Linked DNA regions of Homo sapiens: regions 1 and 2 are each linked to region 3. A link means that fine-mapping ties the variant in region 3 to the expression of a gene that starts in the linked region. Tissue or cell type: whole blood. Region 3 holds a variant in brackets; each other region holds the start of a gene. All regions are shown on one strand. Distances are from middle to middle.

Region 1 (8,100 bases), 140 kb after region 3:
TTCCTTATAGATGGCCATCTAGCCCCTGCTTGAACACTCCAGGGCTGGGAGCTCACTCATTTGCAGGCAGTCTATTCTACTGTAGGATGGTTCTCTCTCCACCTGCCTCTTTTTATAAAAGAGATACACTGTCAGAAGACACACTGTCAGATTCCATTGCAGAGATACAGAGGAATCCTGCAAATTGTCCTCTGACAACCCTGCACCCACCTCACTGTAAACCAATGTCCCACAGTGCCTCTCCAATTCCTGCATCATCTGACCCAGCCCCACTTACTCATTTTGTAATCTTAGGTAACTTATGTCACCTCATTAAATCTCAATTTCTTCATCTTTAAATGAGATGAAAATTCCAACCTCACATGTTGTAGAGATTAAACATGATAACACCTATAAAGACATGTGGACATGTGGCCTATAGCAAGTACTCAGTAAATACTAGCTGGCATGAATGGAGAGTTACAGCAGATGCTAGCCTGATTGGAATACAGTGGGCTAGCCTAATAAGACATCCTGGTTGAGATGAACCTGGAGCTGTGCATTTAAAGGAGAAAACTAGGGAGTTCATAGAATAAGGGAGCATTTGGGAAGGATCTTCGGGTAGAAAAATAGAGTTTTCAGCTCAACCTAAAAGTATAAATTTAAATGTTGCAAGCCTGATGGGGAGGAGGGTCAGGAGGACCCTCTAGCAAAATGCACGACTTGACATGGAAAGTAATTGGGAATCACTCTAGGTTTATGAGAAGTAGAGTAACAGGATCACAGCAGCAGGTCTTAAAAAAACAGAGTTCCTGCTGCTATGTGAAGGTTAAAATAGAAGCAAAGGAGCAGACCGGGAGACAATGGCTGATTTGGATGTGGAGGACTAATCTTTGACATCTAGGATTTTTTTAGTTCTACTGTCTTTTTTTTTTTTGTTTAGTTTTTTGTTTTGTTTTCATTCTGGGCTATCAGCTGGTATATCTAGCAGCCATCAGGATTGATGGTCTATAGAACCCCTACATCCCTTATCCTAATAGGTTGTCTCAAATCTGTAATGGGCCAAAAACCAGAAAACCAATCTTTATTCATCATTCATTCACGTATGAATACATCTACCCACAGTATTTCGTTTTATATATATCTAGTATTTTATTACTATCCATAGTAACAACAACCACTGACCTGTCTCTAGAATAATTTGGAAACGAGTAAGACATAGCCATTGCCTTTAACGGGTTTATTAGACTTCTGAATTAAACAGATTTAAAAAATTAACTCTTATGCTCAACAGACTCTGGAAGTACCACAAGAGAGAAATGAACAAAATTCTGTGCCAGGGGTTGAAAACAGAGCAAATCAGGCTGCATTCGGCCAGCAAATGTTTTATTTGGCCCACACGGTGTTTTGTTTTTTTTTCAGAGTGGATGCTAACATTTAAAAATTAGGCCATTTCACATAAAAACCCAGATTCCTAGCTTCTGGTAAAAACAGGAAGAGCTGAGCACACTAGGCCAAATTCCTGCATGGTGGTAATTGGCAGGAGCTGAGCAGCAGCTGCCCCTTTTAGGCCGAGCATGAGCTCTGCAGTTTGCCACACTCTATTACTCTGACATTGAAGCCAAATGTTCAGTTGCCAGCTATCATCAGCTTGTGCTATAGGTACGTTTATAATAAAGTTAAAAGTAAAATGATTTTTTAAAACTCAAATCTCTATTAAAAGTACAAATGAAAGATTCACTGATACGGCTGTGTTTCAAGAAAAATGGGGTACAGAATACAAGACTATTCCTAGGGAAAACATACAATTCCTAGTGTTGAAGATGCAAATAAACATCTCCCATTTATGTTACCTGCCTGTCTCCTGCAGACATTTGAGTTTGCCACGTCTGTAACATAAGGAAAAATTAATGTAGTGGCTGAGAGCGTTGACGTTGGAGTGAGGAAGACCTGAGCTTGAAAGCTGGTTCCACCCCTCACTGTGTGACGCTGGCAAATTATCCACCCTCTCTGGGCTTCAGTTTCCTCATACATAAAATAGAGGAAATTATAGTACCTACCTTAGAGAGTGGTGAAGACACAACGAGATAAAGGATATGAAGTGCTTAGCCAGCACCTGGCACATAGTGTCAGCTACCACTAGTGCCGAACACAAAAGAGAGGACCCGTCTCCAACGTGAGCCTTGAAGGATGTTCAGGATTTCCGTGTGAGATGAGGAGAGACGGCATGCTTTACACAGAGAAAGATCTCAGAAGGGACAGAACCAAAGACAAGTAACCTGCTCCAGTGGCCAGAACAGAGGCTTCACAACAATGCTGAATGATTTTCAAAGTCAGGCCAAGACCTATCCCATAAGTAAGAATATGACAAAACAGACTGCTATGTTATAGATTTAGGCGATAACAATGGAATAGGACATTAAATAACTGAATCAAAAGGTGACAAAGTCATTCCCCTTCAGTTCTTTTTCAGACTTCCCAATTAGGAGAGCTTGTGTTTGGTGCTCATTTTGAGCACCTTTCTGATCATACCTGCCCATCTCCAGTTTTAGAGAAACGAGATCTCAGGTTTAAAGGCTCCCTAGCAACAATAGCTAGCTACAGCTTGTTCAGTTTTGTTTCTCCCTACTTTAAGTTTTACTTTTACACTTAGAGCAAGCGACGCTGATTTTATCTTAACATTTAGAGCAAGTGACACTGGTTTTCATAAATGGAGTAATAAAGTTTCCTTGTAAAATGTGAAATCATAATTAAAATAAATGAGACAATTTAGAGAAAAACGTCAAGAAAACAAGAGTATGGGTACTATGTGGATGTGGCAAGAACTGTGAAGCTTGAGCAGCTTCGTGCTGTCTCGTGGGTGTGAGATGAATCCAAGGCAGCGACAGGGCCAGACCGTGAGGGAAGAGCCGCCTCCACCCGCCACCACCTCAGGCGCGGCACCTCCCTTTGCCGCTCTCCAACCCTCGGGAGTTTCTCCAACCGCCAAGGGGCGGGAGGGCGACCCTGCAGTCTCCCAGGCCGGGGTTCAGTGCCCTCGGCCCAGGCAGCAAGCCCGCTGCCCCCCTCAAACACGCTGCAGCGGCTCGCGCACTCCCCGCGAGGACTCGACCTCCTGCTCTTCGCGAACCGCCCCGCTCCTCACCAGTGCTCGGCTTTATCTCTCCACGTCAACACGGCCCTCATCACGGCTTCCCTTACGGCTCGGGCTCCTCCTACCCGCCTCAGCGTCTGTCTCAGCAACCGCCTCACTAACGGTCGCCACTCCACAAGCCACTTTGGCTACCTGCGTTACCCCTGGCAACGTACATGCGCGGTAAGCTGAGTGCGAGGGCGCCTTGCTCCGAGCGCGCATGTCCGAAAGGGAAAGCCAGAAAAGCAGCAAAAGCAATGGTGGCACTGGAGCCCCTAAGGCGCCAGCGCAACCAGAGCGCGAGCGATTGGTCGGGGCGTGTGGGGGCGGTGCGTCTTCCTCGAGAATGGATTTGATTGGTGGAGCGTGGAAATGGCGGCTGTAGCCGAGGGGGCGGCCGGAAAGCAGCGGCGGCGTCTGGGGCGCTTTCGCAACATTCAGACCTCGGTTGCAGCCCGGTGCCGTGAGCTGAAGAGGTTTCACATCTTACTCCGCCCCACACCCTGGGCGTTGCGGCGCTGGGCTCGTTGCTGCAGCCGGACCCTGCTCGATGGGCACGACTGGGCTGGAGAGTCTGAGTCTGGGGGACCGCGGAGCTGCCCCCACCGTCACCTCTAGTGAGCGCCTAGTCCCAGACCCGCCGAATGACCTCCGGTAAGTTACTGTCCCCTTTTGGGCCTCAGTTTCACCACCTGTAAAATGGTATCGGGAGAGTGGACAGTGTGTGGGCCTTTCTAACCTTTGACAGAGGGTCGGCAGAAACCTCGAAGCCCACGGGTTTAGTTACTAGGGTCTGGAGCCCAGGTGCTCTTCCTGTGCGATCAGCCCTGGGGTGCGCTCGACTTCCTCATCTAAGATGACTAGGGAGACTGGGGGGGAGCCGGGAGGTTTTGTGAAAGAGGTCCCCTTGGGGTTGGAGGATCCTAGGAAGTCATTAGACTACGTGTGTGATAGGAGGTTAAGATTTACCTACTTTTTTCAAAATTTAATACTAAGAACTACTTTGAAAGAGGCATCACCTTCTTTTTACAGAGTCTTTTACCGAGACTTTGAGATGTTAAGTAACTTGCTGCTAAACTTACAGCTGGTAGAGCTGGAATTTGAGCCCCAGTCTCTTAAGAGTTTGTGCTGATTCCACCAGGCTTCAGTATTTTTATCTCTAAAATTGTAAACAATATCATTTCATAAGATCCATCCAGCTCCTCAAAATTATTTTACCCCAAATTACATCAGAAAACCTTGATTCTAATTCTAGTTCTTGCAGTTTCCCTATTTGTAGAAAAGAACTTGGGTTAAATGATCTCTCTAGACCCATCCACCTTTTACAATCTGTGGTTTAGTGATTAGGATACACTTTACTGAAATTTTTTTTTTAATTTTAAAAGTATGTTTTCATCATAGAAGACACATTGGAACTTTAATGAAGTTTTAGTTTAGTGGGTTTTTTTTTGAGATGAGGTCTCGCTCTGTCACCCAGGCTGGAGTGCAGTGGCACAATCATAGCTCCCTGAAGCCTTGACCTGCCGGACTTAAGCAGTCCTCCTACCCCGGCCTCCTTAGTAGCTGGGACCACAGGTATGCTCCACCACGCCCGGTTGCTTGTTTTTTTTTGTTTTTTTGGGTTTTTTTTTTCATTTTTTGCAAAGACGAGGATCTCACTGTGCTCTCCAGGCTGGTCTCAAACTCTTGGGATCAGGTGATCTTCCCACTTCCTCCTCCCAAAGTGCTAGCATTACAGGAATGAGCCACCTTGCCTTGCCAGCTTTTTTCAATAACAGTATGGGGGAGAAGTATTAGACCAAGATTTGGTAGACTTGGGTTCTCGTGTCTGTTCTGCAAGTAATTTAACCTGTCACTCAATTTTATCAATAAATTGAGAGTAAACCTTATTGTACCTACAAGGTTACCATGAGGATCAAGAATGAAGAAGATTCAAAAATTCTGTATCAAATTATTTACCTTCTGGAGGATTACATCTGATGAAAGTGATACACACTCTCTCCCAGAAATTTTACATTATGTAAAACTTTTACCTCATTTATTTGCAGAGAAGACAGTGTAACTCACTGATTTATTTAAGCATTTTCTGGTGCTTAAGAGCTTAGCTATTGGTTCATATTCTCAAATTTATGGTAAGTGCCCCCAGAAATCTTTATAATAGCCCTACTCAGTGATTAATCCGAAAAGTTTCTAGCTTGACTTTTTTGTTGTGCAGAGATTTCCAACACCTTTTAACCTGTGCTAGAGGATATGGGAAGCTTTTGGAAGACAGGAAAATACTCCCATAGCACAAGACTGGTCCACACTGACTTTAATCTCCCTCATTTTAATATGGATAATCTATGTGGTTCCTGCATTGTCATGGATTAAAACTGAGTAGGCAGTGGAAGATAAATTTTAAATAAGTTAATCACTTAGACTTTGTTTTTCCAGCAAAGAAGATGTTGCTATGGAATTGGAAAGAGTGGGAGAAGATGAGGAACAAATGATGATAAAAAGAAGCAGTGAATGTAATCCCTTGCTACAAGAACCCATCGCTTCTGCTCAGTTTGGTGCTACTGCAGGAACAGAATGCCGTAAGTCTGTCCCATGTGGATGGGAAAGAGTTGTGAAGCAAAGGTTATTTGGGAAGACAGCAGGAAGATTTGATGTGTACTTTATCAGGTAAGCATATAAGATGGTAAAGATAGTACAGCCAAATGATTTTGTCTGGGCAGGTAGTGGGAGCATAGCAGGAATCTTAGCTTCTTTATATTTTTACCATAAAACCATTGCAGATTCTATTCTTTCAATGTTGCTATTAATTACATCAAGTGATTTGGGGAAAATTACATACATTTTGTCCCTCCTTCTGTGAATGGTTAACGGGTAGGTTGCATTTTAGTTATATTTATAAATTTATATTGTCATAGAGGAAACCATTTAAAAGTGCCATTTATCACTCTTTTTCATTTTTAAATGACAGATACCTATGGCAACATTTGGAAATTAATTAGAAATCTGAAATGTGGTCCAGTTCTTTTAAAAGTCCCTTCTATTTACTAGCAGTAAGTTTCCTTTAATATCATTTTCTAGCCCACAAGGACTGAAGTTCAGATCCAAAAGTTCACTTGCTAATTATCTTCACAAAAATGGAGAGACTTCTCTTAAGCCAGAAGATTTTGATTTTACTGTACTTTCTAAAAGGGGTATCAAGTCAAGATATAAAGACTGCAGCATGGCAGCCCTGACATCCCATCTACAAAACCAAAGTAACAATTCAAACTGGAACCTCAGGACCCGAAGCAAGTGCAAAAAGGATGTGTTTATGCCGCCAAGTAGTAGTTCAGAGTTGCAGGAGAGCAGAGGACTCTCTAACTTTACTTCCACTCATTTGCTTTTGAAAGAAGATGAGGGTGTTGATGATGTTAACTTCAGAAAGGTTAGAAAGCCCAAAGGAAAGGTGACTATTTTGAAAGGAATCCCAATTAAGAAAACTAAAAAAGGATGTAGGAAGAGCTGTTCAGGTTTTGTTCAAAGTGATAGCAAAAGAGAATCTGTGTGTAATAAAGCAGATGCTGAAAGTGAACCTGTTGCACAAAAAAGTCAGCTTGATAGAACTGTCTGCATTTCTGATGCTGGAGCATGTGGTGAGACCCTCAGTGTGACCAGTGAAGAAAACAGCCTTGTAAAAAAAAAAGAAAGATCATTGAGTTCAGGATCAAATTTTTGTTCTGAACAAAAAACTTCTGGCATCATAAACAAATTTTGTTCAGCCAAAGACTCAGAACACAACGAGAAGTATGAGGATACCTTTTTAGAATCTGAAGAAATCGGAACAAAAGTAGAAGTTGTGGAAAGGAAAGAACATTTGCATACTGACATTTTAAAACGTGGCTCTGAAATGGACAACAACTGCTCACCAACCAGGAAAGACTTCACTGGTGAGAAAATATTTCAAGGTATCCAGTGCTTTCAAGCACTATTAAACATTATGTGATGAGAAATTTATAATGCTGCATCTTGTATTCGTGCCCATACATGGTTAAGATGTGAAAATAGAGCCAAGAAATAGGGCCAAATATGAGATACCAGTTGATCCTAATACTTTATCTTAAACTGATATTCAAGCAGTTTCCTATGGCAGAGAGAAAATCGGCTGACTGCTGTCGTGATGCCATGGCAAAGGAGAGTATTACTATTAACAGCTGCCATCGTCTCTCCCTGGTGCAGCAGCTGGGACTCTCCTCCTCAGCAGTGCTTTCCCTTCTTCCCATCCTCTTTCCAGCCAGTAATCTTAAAACTTGAAGGAAAATTAAAAGCCTTCACTTGTGAAAAATTTAGGGAAGGCTTCTTATATACATAAATGAGTGGAGAATAGTTGGTGTCTTCACACCCCTCCTGATACTTACTACTAAGTGTGACTTCCAATTTAATTTTGTATATATCATAGTCATTTTTATCTTCTATTTTAATGTAATGCTTCTCTAAAATGCTTTAGAGCTCTAAATAATTCAAAAGTATAATCACATAGTTCATCTATTATTTGTAATATGCTCTTAATACAGAATTCAGAACTTAGCAGTTTTGTCTTTATAATACCTCAGTGAATAAGAGATAAAAGGGAGACCTTTTGAGCAGCCCTGTATTAGTTATTCATTATGCCATTATGGTATAATGAATAACTCCTTTAAAGAATAATAATTTTACTTAAACTCCTGTGGGGAAACAGCCTGGAGAAATTTGTGAAGCAGGAGATTAGGTTTGATTCTTGTTCCCAGTTCTACCCATGATTTTATGTCTTTTCTGTGCCTGGAGTTTCTCTGCCTTTAACACAAGATGGCCATATATACCTAGGAACTGCATAAGAATTCTTCAAGTCTGTGTCCTAGACACTGAGCTTCTTGAAGAAAGCTTTGAGGTTTATGTAGATTTATTGCTAGCAAAATGGGCAAATATTAAAAACTTTTTTTTGTGGTAAGAGTCTAGTTCTCAACATGAGATGAAGT
Region 2 (8,100 bases), 32 kb before region 3:
CGGCTGAGAGCAGGGCCTGGACGCCTGGAGGCTGTGCAGCTGCAGGCCAGTGGCACACCACTCTGACCTTAAGTGTCCCCATCTGCAAAAGTGGGTTGATCAAAGGTCCATCAATGATAGACTGGATTAAGAAAATGTGGCACATATACACCATGGAATACTATGCAGCCATAAAAAAGGATGAGTTCATGTCCTTTGTAGGGACATGGATGAAGCTGGAAACCATCATTCTGAGCAAACTATCGCAAGGACAGAAAACCAACACTGCATGTTCTCACTCATAGGTGGGAACTGAACAATGAGAACACTTGGACACAGGATGGGGAATATCACACACTGGGGCCTGTCGTGGGGTGGGGGGAGGGGGAGGGATAGCATTAGGAGATATACCTAATGTAAATGACGAGTTAATAGGTGCGGCACACCAACATGGCACCTGTATACAAACGTAACAAACCTGCACGTTGTGCACATGTACCCTAGAACTTAAAGTATAATTTAAAAAAAAGGGGGGTTGCTAAGACCCCCCCCGCAGGGTTGCTCCCACGGGGAAATGAGACGGGTCCAGCCCCCGAGAAGCAGCAGTGATGGCTCCCGGCACCACCTAGGCCCATGGCTGGATTGCCAAGCCGTCCCTAGGACTCTTGTTTCCAGCACCTTCCTGTGGCTGAGGCGGTGCTCTAAAGCATTAACCTTGCAGGGGCATTTCCTGCAAGGAAACGTTCTCAGAGGCCAGGCCCAAGGGACGGGAGGGCAGGAGCCCCCTCCTCCCAGCGCAACCCTGGCCCCACTGTTATTTTTTCCAATTGAAGAAGAAAAACATTTCCTCTGTCTCCTCACAGCTCTGCCCTGGGCAGTCAGAGGTGAGAATGGACAGGACAGGGTGGGAAGCCCACCCAGTGGGGTGGAAGGCCCAGGCCCGCCTTCTCCGAGCCAGCATAGCCGTTGACCACCGTGCCCCAAGCAAGACTGCCCTGACTCGGCCACCAGGTCCTCGTCTTCAAAGGCACTGCTGGACATTTCCCAAATTTCAGGCATTTTGGTGGCATCTGGATTATCACCTATTTCACATTTGTCTTTAACTCACTTTTAAAGGACTTCAATCAATGCATTTATCAAGGAAGCTTTACATCATTACTGTACATGGAAAACCAGTAGCACTTGCCAAAACCAGAAAGTAACGGCAAGTACAAAGAAAACAAAGCGCTATCAGTACATTCTAGCACGCTGATGTCAACAGCCCTGAGTTTGAGACCTTCTCTCTATTAAAAAGAGACAGTGACAAATGTTACAGTCATTAAAGACATGTTAGCCTCAAACCAAGACCTTTTCCTTGATATAATCAGACTTGAACAAAAACTGAAAAAGGCCCAAATTGCAGTGTGAATAACCAACTAGGTCTGGCTATTCTGGGTTAGTTCATTCCAAGTTAGTTATTGCTGGGTCCCACCTAATCCCCACTCCTGAGTACCTTTCATCTCCCCTTGGTTCCCTCCAAAATTCCCTCTGGAAGAACACCTCATTGCATCTTAGTAAGGCCAGGGAAGGTGTGGTTTGTTCCTTCCTTTATTCATTCATTCAGCCAGTAATTGTCAGCACCTCCTCTGCCCAGCCAGGGGTATAGGGGCTGCCACCATGAGCCATCCTGGCCTGATGGTGCTCCCAGCTAATGGGTAGAAGGGAGAAATCATAAGATGTGGAGCCAGATCTGGGTTTCAATCCTTACCTTGCTAATGCCCCTCAGTTTCCCCATCTGTGAAATGGGTTTGCTGACCACAGCCTAGTCAGCTGGCTGCAAGGATGGTGTAAGATCTGGTAGGGCAGTGCTGGGCACAGGATTCACTCTCACCGTCTGGTGGCTCTGCTAGCCACATTGGGGCTCAGGACAGGAGGTGGAGCCCTGGTCTTTAGTTGCAATGCCCCCCACCCCAACTCCTGGCTCTAACATGGGCTTCAGGGGTCATGGTTCACTGCCACAAGGCGGGGAGAAACTGGTGTTTGCTAAGAGCCTTGTTGTGCTTGACACCTGTTATGTTATATTCTCCATCTCACACCCTCCCAGGGGCAGGTGTTCTGCTACGATTGTCCTCATTTTACAGTTGAGGAAACTGAGGCTCAGAGAGGGTGAGTGCCTTGCACAAGACCACACAGCACTTCTCACCTCCAGTTGATGTGAGGATACTCAGACCCGAATACCCTTCACCTAGAGAGCTCCTAAACCCCACTGCTCAGCTTGGCAGGGAGCTTGTGTCCCAAGTGCCCAGGATCATCACCACAGGCTGGTCTAAGACAACACTGAGCATTATCCTCACGGCTCAGTGGGGGGAGCTGCAGGATGCAGCAAGATGAACCAGATGAGCGGGAGACAGGAAGGAAGAGAGGAGGGGCTGGAGAGGGAGTGGGGGTGAGGGATAGGGAGGGAGACAGAGAGAGAGACAGAGATAGAGACACAGAGAGACAGATGAAGAGTGGAAAGGGAAGGGGGCAAGACACTGAGAGAAGGAGAGACAAAGAGAGTGAACGGGAGGAGCAAGACAGATAGGAACAGAGATGGGTGGGGGCAGGAGAGAGAGAGATAAGACAGAGAGACCAGCGGATGGACTGGGGTGGGGGCACTGAGGATGTGAGTGAGGAGGAGGGGCATGGAGGCAGGCCCCATGCACCCCTGCTGGGCTCTGCAGTTGGCCCCCACGGGTGGCACGATGTGCGCCTTCTCCATCCAGAGAGGAAGACAGGGACACAGTCCCACGGGCAGTCCCCTGAGTGGCTCTTGGTGGGTGGATGGGCCTGGGAGGGGGCCTCCAATTTCCTGCAGCTCAACACTCCCGGCCATCAAAGCAGTGGCCAGACCAGGGCTGAGGGGTCTGGAACAAGGCGGGCAGGATGGCAGGAAGGCGAGGGTGTTGAGGGAAGTGGGGGGCGGCTGCAGGCCCAGCCTTTCCTGCCGGCCCCATGGTGCACAGACACCCCTGCCCTTCCTTCCTGGTTGGGTGGGAAAGAGGAAAATGAGGTCCCGCTACTCTCAGAGTGAGGCCCACCGGGCACCCTGTGGAAGCTGGGGGTCTGATGGGAGGCCCCGTTCTGAGAGGTCGGAGCTGAAGGGCTTTTGCTTTCAAACACTGTAGCTCTGCTCCTCATGAGCTGTGCATCTTGGGCCAGTCCCTTCCCCTCAGCCTTGGTTTCCATATCTGGAAGATGGGTTACCAATAGCGCTCGCCTCGGGGGAATCTGTGAGGAAAAAGAGAGCCCGTACATGGCAAGTGCTTGGCACAGTGTCTGGCACGGGCTAGCCCTGTGTGAGCACCCCCGCAAAACAGCCACGGCGCATGGTCCTCACAGGGCTGTGACCTTGGAACCAGGCTGCCTGCCCCTAACGCTGCTTTTGAGATCAAGAACCCTGCCCAGTGCCGGCTTTTGTGGGACTAATCTTCCACTAAGCCTGGGAGGATGTCAGGGAAAGTGCCTGGCGGGGGTGCCAGGGGTGGGGGTGCGGCTGGGTCTCCACAGGAGGCAACTGTGGGCTCCAGGACCAAGGCCTTGCTCTGGCTATCGGTTGTGGGCCACTGGCTGGAACTATTTCCTCTCTCCATGTTTTCCTCATTTATATATCTGACCCTGAGCACTGGTCCCTCTGGCCCTGCCACTTGTAAATCCCTTTTATGGGTCTGGGGTTTGGGGGACAGATTATGGGGTCTGGGGGGCCCGACTGGCCGGCACCGGGGGAGCGAAGGCCTGGACAGTGCCTGAGAAAGGTGGTGGAGGGAGGCTGAGTGTGGAGGGGAGACACAGGGTTCGGGAAGGCAGAGGGAGAAGGAAAGGGGAGCTCAGAGGGACCGAGAGAGGGACGGAGGGTCCGAGGGGGAGGCAGAGGGAGCCACGGAGAGAGGGAGCGAGCGTCAGGGACGGAAAAACGGAGCAGGAGAGAGAAGGAGACTAGAAAGGGCCGGGGGCGGGGCTGCCAGGGACTGGAGAGCGAAGCGGAGTCGGAGGGAGAAGGAGAAGCAGAGGCAGAACCCGGAGAAGCGCCACACGCGCGGAGTTTGGGGTGGGGACAGAGACGGAGAGACGCAGAGACCGAGAGACGCAGAGAGAGGGAGAGACGGGGTGGGGGAGAGGGCGGAAAAGAGAAAACAGGCGCGAGCGAGGCAGGCCAAGCGGCCAAGTGGGAGGAAAGAGCGAGGAGAGCGAGCGACGGCGGCGGCGGCTACGGGGAGGGACCCTGGGGCCGCGGGCGGGTCCTGGAGGGCGCGGGCGGCGGGACCCGCGGACGGCGGGGCGTGGCCCAGGGCGGCCAGGGGCAGGCGGGGGTCCCGGGGGCGGGCGGGGCCGGGGCGGGGAGTGAGGGCGTGTCCGCAGCGGAGCCGCCCCCGCCCCGCCCCCGGGCTGCGCGGCGAGGCTGACCCGGGCCCGGGCGCCGGGGTCGGGGGCGGCTGGCGCGGGCAGGAAGCGCATCGCGGCCCGGGCCCGCCCCCCGCCTCCCGCCGCCTCCGGGCTCCCGGCTCCCGGCCGCGCCTCGCCCCATGCACTCGCCGCGCCGCGCAGCCCGCGCACGCCCGGATGGCTCCTCGCGCCGCGGGCGGCGCACCCCTTAGCGCCCGGGCCGCCGCCGCCAGCCCCCCGCCGTTCCAGACGCCGCCGCGGTGCCCGGTGCCGCTGCTGTTGCTGCTGCTCCTGGGGGCGGCGCGGGCCGGCGCCCTGGAGATCCAGCGTCGGTTCCCCTCGCCCACGCCCACCAACAACTTCGCCCTGGACGGCGCGGCGGGGACCGTGTACCTGGCGGCCGTCAACCGCCTCTATCAGCTGTCGGGCGCCAACCTGAGCCTGGAGGCCGAGGCGGCCGTGGGCCCGGTGCCCGACAGCCCGCTGTGTCACGCTCCGCAGCTGCCGCAGGCCTCGTGCGAGCACCCGCGGCGCCTCACGGACAACTACAACAAGATCCTGCAGCTGGACCCCGGCCAGGGCCTGGTAGTCGTGTGCGGGTCCATCTACCAGGGCTTCTGCCAGCTGCGGCGCCGGGGCAACATCTCGGCCGTGGCCGTGCGCTTCCCGCCCGCCGCGCCGCCCGCCGAGCCCGTCACGGTGTTCCCCAGCATGCTGAACGTGGCGGCCAACCACCCGAACGCGTCCACCGTGGGGCTAGTTCTGCCTCCCGCCGCGGGCGCGGGGGGCAGCCGCCTGCTCGTGGGCGCCACGTACACCGGTTACGGCAGCTCCTTCTTCCCGCGCAACCGCAGCCTGGAGGACCACCGCTTCGAGAACACGCCCGAGATCGCCATCCGCTCCCTGGACACGCGCGGCGACCTGGCCAAGCTCTTCACCTTCGACCTCAACCCCTCCGACGACAACATCCTCAAGATCAAGCAGGGCGCCAAGGAGCAGCACAAGCTGGGCTTCGTGAGCGCCTTCCTGCACCCGTCCGACCCGCCGCCGGGTGCACAGTCCTACGCGTACCTGGCGCTCAACAGCGAGGCGCGCGCGGGCGACAAGGAGAGCCAGGCGCGGAGCCTGCTGGCGCGCATCTGCCTGCCCCACGGCGCCGGCGGCGACGCCAAGAAGCTCACCGAGTCCTACATCCAGTTGGGCTTGCAGTGCGCGGGCGGCGCGGGCCGCGGCGACCTCTACAGCCGCCTGGTGTCGGTCTTCCCAGCCCGGGAGCGGCTCTTTGCTGTCTTCGAGCGGCCCCAGGGGTCCCCCGCGGCCCGCGCTGCTCCGGCCGCACTCTGCGCCTTCCGCTTCGCCGACGTGCGAGCCGCCATCCGAGCTGCGCGCACCGCCTGCTTCGTGGAACCGGCGCCCGACGTGGTGGCGGTGCTCGACAGCGTGGTGCAGGGCACGGGACCGGCCTGTGAGCGCAAGCTCAACATCCAGGTACACCCGGGCGGTGGCGGCGGCGGCGGCGGCGGCGGCGGCGGGGGCGGGGGCGGGGGCGGGCGGGAACCGAGCGGGTCGTGAGCTGAGTGGGTCACAGGTGGGAGCGCGCAGAGATCCAGATGTACGTGGAACCCAGGTGTGCACGCGAGAATACAGGTGTCCCCCGAGGGGTACTACTGGCGCCTGTATGGCCCAGGTGGGCATGTGCAGGGACTCAAGTGAGTGCCGGCTCATGGGCGCGCATACCTAGGCGTACTGGGAGGGGTCCAAGTTGCCACAGGTACCCAGGTGCGCATAAAGCCCAGGTATGCACGTGAGGGTCACAGGTGCATGCTGAGGGCGCAGTAAGTGACTGCATGCCTGACCAAAGTTGTGTTCTGGGGCCACTGCGTGAGCCTGTCAGAGTTACCATTGCACGTTGGTGATGGGTGCATGGGTGTGGCAGGTGTGCAAGGAGGCACACAGGTGTGCACCAGGGCCCTGCAGATGTCTGCATGGACTTGTGTGCCAGCAAGCTGGGGCCTGAAGACGCACAGGGCAGACAGGTGTACTGCACAGACACTGGTACAACGGGACAGGGCTAGGTGTGCAGTGGGATGTGCGTGGCAGGGGACGCAGGTATTTGGGCATGAGTCGGTACTCTGAGGAGGCTGCATGGTTGGCAAACAGGTGTGTGCCTGAGGCCAACTTTTATTCACCTATTCTGCAAATATTTCCTGAGCACCTAGTATGTACCAGGTGTGGGAGTCTGGGGTAAACAATAGCACTTGTGGAGTGCCAGCTAGGGGCATCACATGTCACAATTCCCAGTTCTCAGAACAACCCTCTCAGGTAGCCTCTATTCTCATCACATTTTACAGATGAAGAAACAGGCACAGAGAGGTTAAGCAACTTGCTGAGGATCACACAGTTGGGCACTAGCAGAGGTGGATTTGAATCCAGCCTGTCTGGCCTCAGCATCTGTGTTTTTAATGCCCAGCCTTTGCTGCCTTCTGGACTTGGATCTCAGAGTGCGTGTGTTTTGGGGGCGTCCCAGGCAGCTGGGGTGGGCAGATGCCAGGGCCAGGAGAATGGAGGGATGTGAACAGGGGTGTTTTGGGGGCAGGAGAGGGCCGTGGGGCTCAGTGGGGAATGAGGAGGAGTACAGGCAGGCATGGGGCCCAGGTGTCTGAGGCTGGGTTGGGCAGTAGCAAGGGGGGCCAGGTTGACGGAATCAGCATGTGTGTTGACATGACAAGGGTGCGGGAGGGGACTTGGTGTGGTTCCCTGAAAGGAAGTTCATGGCAAGGGATTGCTCCTCACACTGGCTTTGGGAGCTGGGTCTGTTGATCCCCATAGTTCACCCTGAGGAATGAGGCCCCAGAATGACACTGGGGCCTTTCCCACACCCTCCACCCATCTGAGTCTGGCGAGCCCACTTCAGCTCCACTGCCTGCCATTCCCTTAGGAAGCTGCATCTCCATCAGCAAAATGCAGAACTCAGCCTTCTTGTGGTGACCCAAGCCTTCCTTGGGGCCCCACCCTGTCCCTTCTCCATGGCTGTGACAAGAATTTCATGAGATTAACCATTCCTCTGTGGGCGGGCCCAACACTGGGGCTTTGAGAAAATGCAGATTCCTTCTCCCAAGGTCGAGGTCGGTCTCCCACGACTGCCCACCATCTGGCCGGCCACCCTGAAAGTAAAGGTCACGGTGGGTGAGCAGGGCAGACAGTCCAAAGGGTGGTGGGGCTGCTTGCCCTGTGCCATGGTTGGTTCATCCACCATCTCCACCCCAGAGCTTCATCTCGCAGGCAACTGTGTTTGGCACTGGGGGTCTCAGTGGGGAGTCGCTGAATGGAGAGAAGTGTCCTGTGGACTGAGGGCCTTCCTCCAGTAGTTTCAGGCCCTGTGTCTCGGCCCTTTGGTGTAAGCTGATCTGTGGGATTCCTTAGGCCAGCCCAGGGTTCCCTCCCCCTCTGGCAAGAACCATTCTGGTTCCCACGGTCCGCTCCCTCGGTGCAGTGACTCACCCAGCTGAGGGGGGCTGGAGCTTCTCTACCTAAGGGGACAGGGCCTCTCCAGGGACACAGCCCCAGGACAGAGTGGCGAAGGGCCTCTTCCCCACCCCAAGGCCACAGATTCCGGCTGCGGCCTTCCTTGGTCACCCTCCCTGTGTTTTCCACACCCTTCTCCTCTTCGCCGTGCCCGCTGTGGGCACAGGCCAGTGCCACTTGGCAGTATCTCCCAGA
Region 3 (8,100 bases):
CCAGCCTCGTCTGAGGCCAGGGAGCACTCATGGAGGAAATTGGCCCCACCACTGGGCGGGTTATGCCATCTGCCTGTGCCCACCTTCCTCATCTTTAAACAGGGCCAATGCGACCTGCCCATAGGATGGAGGGTGGTGGCGAGTGGGAGGCACGGGGTGGGGCTGGTGGCCGTTAGGACTGAATGACTAGTGTTTTCTCCTCAGGAAGGCAGGACTGAACCAGGCAGGCTGGGGTGCAGTGAGTCCTCCTGCCTCTTCTCTGAAATGCCCCTGTGTCACCCTCTCCTTCTGTTTCCTCTGCAGAGCCCTCAGGACTGCCCCCGGACCCTGCTCTCACCCCTGGCACCCGTGCCTACGGGTGGCTCCCAGAACATCCTGGTGCCTCTGGCCAACACTGCCTTTTTCCAGGTAAGTAGAAGCCAGGCCAGCGCCGGGTGGGGCCAGGAGGAGGCCGGGGAGCACGCAGGCCACTAACTGCCCCCATGTCCTGGTGTGACCCCTGCTCTGGGCCCACTGCAGTGCTTTCGCACCTGTGTGGGCTTTGCTTTTCTTTCTCTGAGTTTCCACCTTCTGCATGAGGAAGCCCCACTCTGACTGCACGGGGCTGCAAGAAGAGGAAGTGGTGAGGGCCAGGCCAAGGGGGACAGCTGGGGGCCAACAGCTGCCAAGGGAAAGCCAGTGCCCCCAGGCTCTCCTGCCCCGTGCCACAGCCGGAGGGTGGACGCTGCCCTATCCTGTCCTCCCTTAGCCTGAGCTGTGACCCTGGACACACCCACCCACCGCCGAGCCCACTGCCCCGTGGGTGGCTTCCATGTCTTCCCTGCAGAATGACCAGAGAACCCCTTGGCCACCCCATTCCCCATTGTCCAGATGGGGAAGATGAGGCCCAGGAAGGAAAAGTAGATGACGCCAGATCACACAACACAGGGCTGGACTTGTGCTTAGCTCTGGACTCCCCAACCAGTGCTCGTCTTTGCAACTAGCCCCGCCCCCACCATCTGGGCTGGGGGTTGGGGACGCAGCTCCTTTCTGGACCCCTCCTGGAGGCGCGTCCTGGGTGGGAAGCGTTGACGAGTCCTGGAGGCGTGCCAGCCACCCCCCTCCCCACCTCCCTGGAACTCGCCATCTGTTACTTCCATGGAGGAGCTGAGGCCCGTGAGAGCTGTCACACGTGGTGGCCACGTGCCGGGCATCTGGGATGTGTCGGGAAGCCTCGTGGCAGGGGCTGGAGCTCTGGGAGGGCTAGGGTGGGGCCTGCCCTCAGCCCTCAAGCCCCACCCTGCAGGAGTTGGGGCAAGCGCCTCCAGGATCAGCCAGGGGGCTGGGTGGGTGGGCAGGATGGCTCTGCCCCTGGGCCGTGGGCGCCTGGGATGGGGAGGTGTGAGCCTGACTTGAGTCCTGCCGATTCTTCCCAGCTGTGTGGTGGGGCAGCCTCCACTCTGACCGAGCTGCAGGGGCGCCTGCCCTCCTGCTCCCCAGGGCCTGCTCCTAGAACACTGAAGTCAGGCCCAGCGGTGGGGGCCTGTTTGCTGAGCCTACACCCTGGGGAGCTCTGGGACGGGCCGGGTGTGCTGTTCTGAGGTGGCTGAGGACTAAGAGGAGGGACCCATCTCCAGCTCAGCATGGCAGGGGACAAAACGGGCTTTTGGCCCCGTCAGCAGCCACTTTCCTGTGTTAGCTTCCGGGCTGGGACCCCAGAAGCAGGGAGGTTGACCTGCATTCTCCTCAGGGTGTCACATCTGCCAGCCACAGGGACATAAACAGGAAGCTCTGCCACGCAGCTGGCTGGGTGCTTGGCGTAATACACAAAACCTGAGTCTGTTTACTCAGCAAATATGTATTGGTGCTGCTCCTGAGAAGGCCAGATGAGCCTGGGGAACTGAGCCTCATGACACAAACATTATTGGATACCTCCTGCATACTAATGATAGCAAGCACATATTAGGCCCCTACCGTGTGCGGCCCCTTGAGGTACACAATCTCCAGTTTTCCCAGCAACCCTATTCCCATTGTCCAGGTAGGAAAACCAAGCCTCAGAGAAGGGGTCAACTTGCATGAGGTCACATAGCTGGGACATGCAGAGGTGGGGTTTGAACCCAGGCCAGGGCTCTTCCAGCTGCTTTCTGCTGCCCTTGGGGGTGGTGTCAGAGCGGCCGAGCCCTGACCGTCCCCGGTTGGCGAGGGGACAGGTAAGCAGCCAGGCAAGAGGCTAAGGGTGATGCCTGGCACACAGGGATGGGGGCAGCTCTAGGAGCTTCGTAGTGCCCCAGCAGACACCTGAATAGTTGCTGCTGAGGGAATGAATGAGGATCAAGTGAGGCACACCCCTTTGATTTGAGGGCAGCATCTGGGAAGGCTTCAGAACAGGGGGCTTTTAAGCTGGATCCTGAAGGCTGTGTTGAGCTTTGCTGGGTGGTAGAAAGGAAGACAGGTGTTCAGGCGAGGGGAGGGCTCAGGCAAAGGCCGGGGCAGGAGAGTCTGGCCGTGTTGGGCGTTGGGGCACGTCTGAGCAGGGCCTGGTAGGGCAGGATGGGAGGTGGGAAGGCTCGAAGAGCAGGGGAACCCCGCTGGGAGTGGAGCCTTAGGAGCTGAATACAAGGCCCCTGGGTTAGATCACTGGGGATGCTGGAGAGGCTTTTAGTGGTGCTGAGCGCATGAGGCCAAAGTTCTTGGCATTCCTGCACTGCTTGCCTCCCTCAAACATTGGACGTGATGGCCAGGAAGGGGATTTTGGGGGACGGGACAGCCCATGCAAAGGCCTGACAGTTCGACCAAGCCCACCTTTCCCAGCAGGAGCCCGTGGTGTCCTGCTGGAGTTAGAGGGCAATGCATGCTGGCTTGGTTCTCCTCAAACCCGCCTCCCACTCCCTGTTTCCCACAGGGTGCAGCCCTGGAGTGTAGTTTTGGGCTGGAGGAGATCTTCGAGGCTGTGTGGGTGAATGAGTCTGTTGTACGCTGTGACCAGGTGGTGGTGAGTGGGGTGACTCCAGCATGGGCGGAGGGCGGGCCTGCGTTAAGTCCAGATGCTGTACCCCTCACCCCACCCTGCCTCTCTCTACCTTCTGGTTCCCCCATCCCCAGCAGCCCCAACTTCATCTGCCTCCATGACACCCATCCCCAGCAGAGCCCCAGGCATTGCCCATGCCCCCTATGCTCTTTTCTGCCCTTTTGCAGCTGCACACGACCCGGAAGAGCCAGGTGTTCCCGCTCAGCCTCCAACTAAAGGGGCGGCCAGCCCGATTCCTGGACAGCCCTGAGCCCATGACAGGTGGGCACCCCCACCCGCCCCACATGGCCTCGGGGCCTCAGTGCAGTGGGTGGGGCTCAGCCTTGTG[C/T]GACTCATTCCAGTGGTTGCCCCAAAGCCGCAGATGTCCCACCCCATTGTTCTCCAGCACACACACAGCCTCATATCCCAGCCCTGCCATGCCATGCCAGGCTCCAGGCCTTGGGGTCTCCGTGCATAGTTTCCCCTGCCTTCCTGGGCCTGATCGTCCCCATAGGAAACAGGACACAGTCCCTCTGCAGAGCTTGTAAGGACCTGATGAGCCAGGGCTCGCCCAACCTTGAGCGTGGCATCTGGGGTGTGGTCAGCTCCCCTCGCGTGGCAGCTGTGCAGTTGCTGTGACTGTCTGTGTTGGGTCCACTCTCCAGGGGCTCCTCTGTTCATGGGGAGTCTCAGGCATCCCTGGTGGACGTGGTGCCCTCCAGATTCCCACCATGAAGGTCCCAGAACGGCCCTGCATACCCAAGGTCCTGGAGAACCCTCCCTGCCCTCCTCTTTGGGCTACTTGGAGGGTTTGAAGCCCCAAAGTACTCATAGTCCACATTACTCAGGGATCCCCAGCATCCTAGGGCCCCGCCGGGGTTGATCAGACCCACTGAGGTCTGGGTGGGATCTGGCTTTACCACCCACAGGCCTCGTGAGCTCAGGCGAGTCCCTCCTGTCTGAGCGTCAGCCTCTTCTCTGTAAAGTGAGGCTGACCTGAGGCTCCCAGCTGGAGTCTCTGTGAGGGGAAGGAAATCAATGAAGCAGGGGCTGCACTGTGCTCAGCACAGGCCCCAGGGGTTTGGGGAAGGGGCTAAGAACCTCAGGGGATCCTGACCCCCAGAATCAGGACTTCCTCTGGGTGGGGCACCACAATGATGGGGCGCAGACCTCTTGACAGTTGTTGTGTGTGGAGGGCACAGCGGTGTTGGGGCATGCACCGCAGAGCGGGGCTGACCGAGCTGCCCCGTGTCTCCCCAGTCATGGTCTATAACTGTGCCATGGGCAGCCCCGACTGTTCCCAGTGCCTGGGCCGCGAAGACCTGGGTCACCTGTGCATGTGGAGTGATGGCTGCCGCCTGCGGGGGCCTCTGCAGCCCATGGCTGGCACCTGCCCCGCCCCCGAGATCCACGCGGTAAGCATGCCCAGTGGAGGCACGTGGCACCCGCACTCCGGCACGGCGCATGCGCAGTGCCCTCGAGGGTCCCACTTCTTGGGGACCCAAACGGCACATACACCGACACATGGGTGCAGTATCACCTGTGAACAAAAGGAAGTGCTCTGCCTCACAGAGCTGATGTTTCAGTGGGGGAGGTGGACAGTAATAAATAAGGAAATGAATAAATTATAGAAGGCATTGGAAGTGTGGCGTGGAGGAGACACCGAGGGCTGAATGTTGTTAGTTTCAGGGGATACCATGATCACTAAAGCCACCAATGACATGGCCAAACATTGCTCCTGGAAGCTGACCTCAGCATCCTCCAGGAGACCCCCTAAGTAGCGTCCCCAGGCCCACGTGGGCTCAGTAATGCACACCCACATCCTCCTTGCCAGCACAGTGACCTGCCAAGTGGCCACAGTCCCAGCCCCACCTGAGCCTCCAGACCTTCCTCTAAGCAGTGGGTCTGCACGGCTGTGCCCTGCTGGGTGCCTGTGACTGTGGGCAGAAGCCTGCTGGCCTGCAGCCTCAGATCCCATTCGCCCCTCTCTCGGGTCACCTGGCAGATTGAGCCCCTGAGTGGCCCGTTGGACGGTGGGACCCTGCTGACCATCCGAGGAAGGAACCTGGGCCGGCGGCTCAGTGACGTGGCCCACGGCGTGTGGATTGGTGGTGTGGCCTGTGAGCCACTGCCTGACAGATACACGGTGTCGGAGGAGTGAGTAGCCACGGTGCCCCCACCTACCTTCTCCAGCAGTGCCAGCCTCTGCTCTGTCCTCCTCACTCCTCCCTCCCCATCCTCTGTCCTCACTCTGCTGCTTTCTGGAAGACTGTTGCTTCGTGGCCTCCAGGCCTGTGCCGAAGCCATTCCCACCACACATCCTGCCGTTTCTGCTTGGGGCATCTGCTTTATCCCTCCAGCTCTGGCTCTGATGCCCACTCCTCTGGGAAGCCCTCACAGGCTGCCCTAGCACAGCCCTTCTTCCACCTAAGCCTTGCTCTGAGGAAAATCATTTGCAATTAAAAAGGCTGGGGCTACTGGCATGGTTTAGAGATCTGTGACTGGCCCAGAGGGGCCGTAGGAAATACGCGTGAGCAGAGACTGAACTGGCTTTCCTTTTGGGAGGCCGTGCATCAGGCGTGTGGAAGAGCCGTCATCTACCAGCCCAGCAGACGTTCTCATGATCAGAGACCCTTTTGTCCCACCCCCGTGTCTTATAGTTGCAGAACTGTGGGAAACTGATGGGGTAAATTATACATAGAAGGCATTGGAAGTGTGGCATGGCGTGGAATGGGGCGATCCCTGAGCCTGGCTCTAGGGTGGCCGTGGGGGCCAAGGACCGCTGGCTGACCACAGCACCTCCCCTCAGGATCGTGTGTGTCACAGGGCCAGCCCCAGGACCACTCTCAGGTGTGGTGACCGTGAACGCCTCTAAGGAGGGCAAGTCCCGGGACCGCTTCTCCTACGTGGTAAGGGGGGGCTGCAGCCCACTGTCCGGCCCGCCCAGCACGCACACTCCCGGGGGCTGGCCCGAGGCCCAAACGCCTGCCTTCCTCCCACAGCTGCCCCTGGTCCACTCCCTGGAGCCTACCATGGGCCCCAAGGCCGGGGGCACCAGGATCACCATCCATGGGAATGACCTCCATGTAGGCTCCGAGCTCCAGGTCCTGGTGAACGACACAGACCCCTGCACGGAGCTGATGTAAGCCTCTGGGCCTGGCCCATCCCTTCCAGCCCAGAGAAATCAATGGGCTTGGGGGCTGGCGGGCTGGAGGTGACATCCTTGAGCCAAGCCTCTCTTGGGTCTTCATTGGCTGTGTCCCCTAAGCCAAGCCCCTTCTCCTCTCTGAGCCTCAGTTTCCTCAGCTGGTAAGAATAGTACCAGTAATTGGAAGAAGGGCTTTGTGCCAGGTATACAGTAGTTGCTCCATAAGTGATAGCTGTAATGAGAATGGTGTTGATTGCACACACACAGATCTTCTGGCTGGCCCAGGGGTGTGGTGAGTGGCAGGGGTGTGGTTGGAGTCTGTTGGCGAAACACCTTTGTCTTTATTATGCACTTATTGTGTACCAGACCCCACTAATGGGCATTGCTGGGACACCAAGAGGAGCACAACATAGACCTCAAGGGAAGGGCAGACATACCCACGGGAAGTAGGAACATCCAGTGGGGCTAGGATTGGGAGAAAAGTCAGTGCCTTCAGGGATCTGGGGAGAGAGACTTCACCAGGGTTGGAGGCGGGAGAGAAGACCTGGGAAGGCTTCCTGGAGGAGGTGGGATGGGGCGGAATTTGGAAGTGTAAGGAAACAGCTGGGCACTAACTGGGCAGAAGATGAGTTGGGACCAGTCAAGGAGGCCTTGAACCCCAGGCCAAGTGCGTGGACTTGTGCCCCAGGTCTCAGGGGCATTGGCGGTGGGTGAGCAGCAGAAGGCAGGCCCTGCTGATAACCTGCTGCTCCCCCCAGGCGCACAGATACCAGCATCGCCTGCACCATGCCTGAGGGGGCCCTGCCGGCTCCGGTGCCTGTGTGTGTGCGCTTCGAGCGTCGGGGCTGCGTGCACGGCAACCTCACCTTCTGGTACATGCAGAACCCGGTCATCACGGCCATCAGTCCCCGCCGCAGCCCTGTCAGGTGAGACTGGCACCCCGCCCTTCCCCCAGGCTCTCTGGGGCTGCAGGTGCACTGATAGGTTTTGCTGTCCCCCGCAGTGGCGGCAGGACCATCACAGTGGCTGGTGAGCGTTTCCACATGGTGCAGAATGTGTCCATGGCCGTCCACCACATTGGCCGGGAGCCCACGGTGAGGCATTCGGGGGCCTGATGGGTGGGAGGGGGTGGCCCAGGCACAGCCAGGGCCCTAACTGACCAGGCCTCCTCCCACTGCATCTCTGTCCCCTCTTCCTCCCTCTGCCTCTGTGTCTCCTCAAACCCCACTCCCCACCGTTTCTCCATGCCCATCTGTCCATCCTGCATCCCGGCCTGGGCCCCTGGCTCTCCTGCACCAGCTCTGCAAGGTTCTCAACTCCACCCTCATCACCTGCCCGTCCCCCGGGGCCCTGAGCAACGCATCAGCGCCAGTGGACTTCTTCATCAATGGGCGGGCCTACGCAGACGAGGTGGCTGTGGCTGAGGAGCTACTGGACCCCGAGGAGGCACAGCGGGGCAGCAGGTTCCGCCTGGACTACCTCCCCAACCCACAGTTCTCTACGGCCAAGAGGGAGAAGTGGATCAAGCACCACCCCGGGGAGCCTCTCACCCTCGTTATCCACGTGAGCACCAAAGGGGCCGGGGTAGGCGGGGGCAAGCGAGCCAGCCTCAGCTGTGGGCCTCGGGAGCACTTCCCCATGAGCATCCTCCCCCTTTGCACCCACAGAAGGAGCAGGACAGCCTGGGGCTCCAGAGTCACGAGTACCGGGTCAAGATAGGCCAAGTAAGCTGCGACATCCAGATTGTCTCTGACAGAATCATCCACTGCTCGGTCAACGAGTCCCTGGGCGCGGCCGTGGGGCAGCTGCCCATCACAGTGAGTGGATGGGGCGCCGGAGCAGGGCAGACCTGGCCCCACCCCTGGCCCATCTGCCAAGCATCTGCCCCTCACCCAGCACCTGAATTCACTGAGCGTTTTCACGCTCAACAGCTCAGTCCAGCAAAGCAGAGCTTTACATCCCCACT

What was found. PIP is the estimated chance that this variant, and not a neighbour inherited with it, causes the effect.
Region 1: it holds the start of MBD4, and the variant in region 3 is fine-mapped to the expression of MBD4 in whole blood (TOPMed, PIP above 0.99).
Region 2: PLXND1 starts here. The variant in region 3 is fine-mapped to the expression of PLXND1 in whole blood (TOPMed, PIP above 0.99).

What each region holds. Positions count from the first base shown.
Region 1 is chr3:129,435,396-129,443,495 of GRCh38, reverse strand. MBD4 (methyl-CpG binding domain 4, DNA glycosylase) reads left to right here and starts at 3,548. Exons shown (of 8, transcript NM_001276270.2): 1 at 3,548-3,766; 2 at 5,546-5,776; 3 at 6,188-7,035. The coding sequence starts at 3,663. IFT122 (intraflagellar transport 122) reads right to left here and starts at 3,272. Exons shown (of 30, transcript NM_052989.3): 1 at 3,125-3,272. The coding sequence starts at 3,165. RefSeq lists enhancers at 2,269-2,318, 2,719-2,768, 2,799-2,848, 2,999-3,208, 3,409-3,548 and 1 more.
Region 2 is chr3:129,603,097-129,611,196 of GRCh38, reverse strand. It overlaps PLXND1 (plexin D1), which reads left to right and starts at 4,521. Exons shown (of 36, transcript NM_015103.3): 1 at 4,521-5,868. The coding sequence starts at 4,558. It overlaps LOC124909431 (a long non-coding RNA gene), which reads left to right. Exons shown (of 2, transcript XR_007096079.1): 2 at 843-1,319. RefSeq lists enhancers at 2,309-3,299, 3,300-4,292, 5,285-6,277, 7,270-8,100 and silencers at 4,193-4,352, 4,503-4,562, 7,697-7,991.
Region 3 is chr3:129,570,637-129,578,736 of GRCh38, reverse strand. PLXND1 (plexin D1) reads left to right here. Exons shown (of 36, transcript NM_015103.3): 9 at 304-408; 10 at 2,882-2,971; 11 at 3,175-3,268; 12 at 4,247-4,401; 13 at 4,992-5,143; 14 at 5,796-5,895; 15 at 5,989-6,128; 16 at 6,893-7,060; 17 at 7,138-7,228; 18 at 7,434-7,697; 19 at 7,802-7,951. Among named protein-coding and RNA genes, the nearest start is that of H1-8, 32 kb to the right of the region's middle. RefSeq lists enhancers at 1,324-2,050, 4,956-5,681. The variant C/T (reference allele first, on the strand shown) is at 3,336.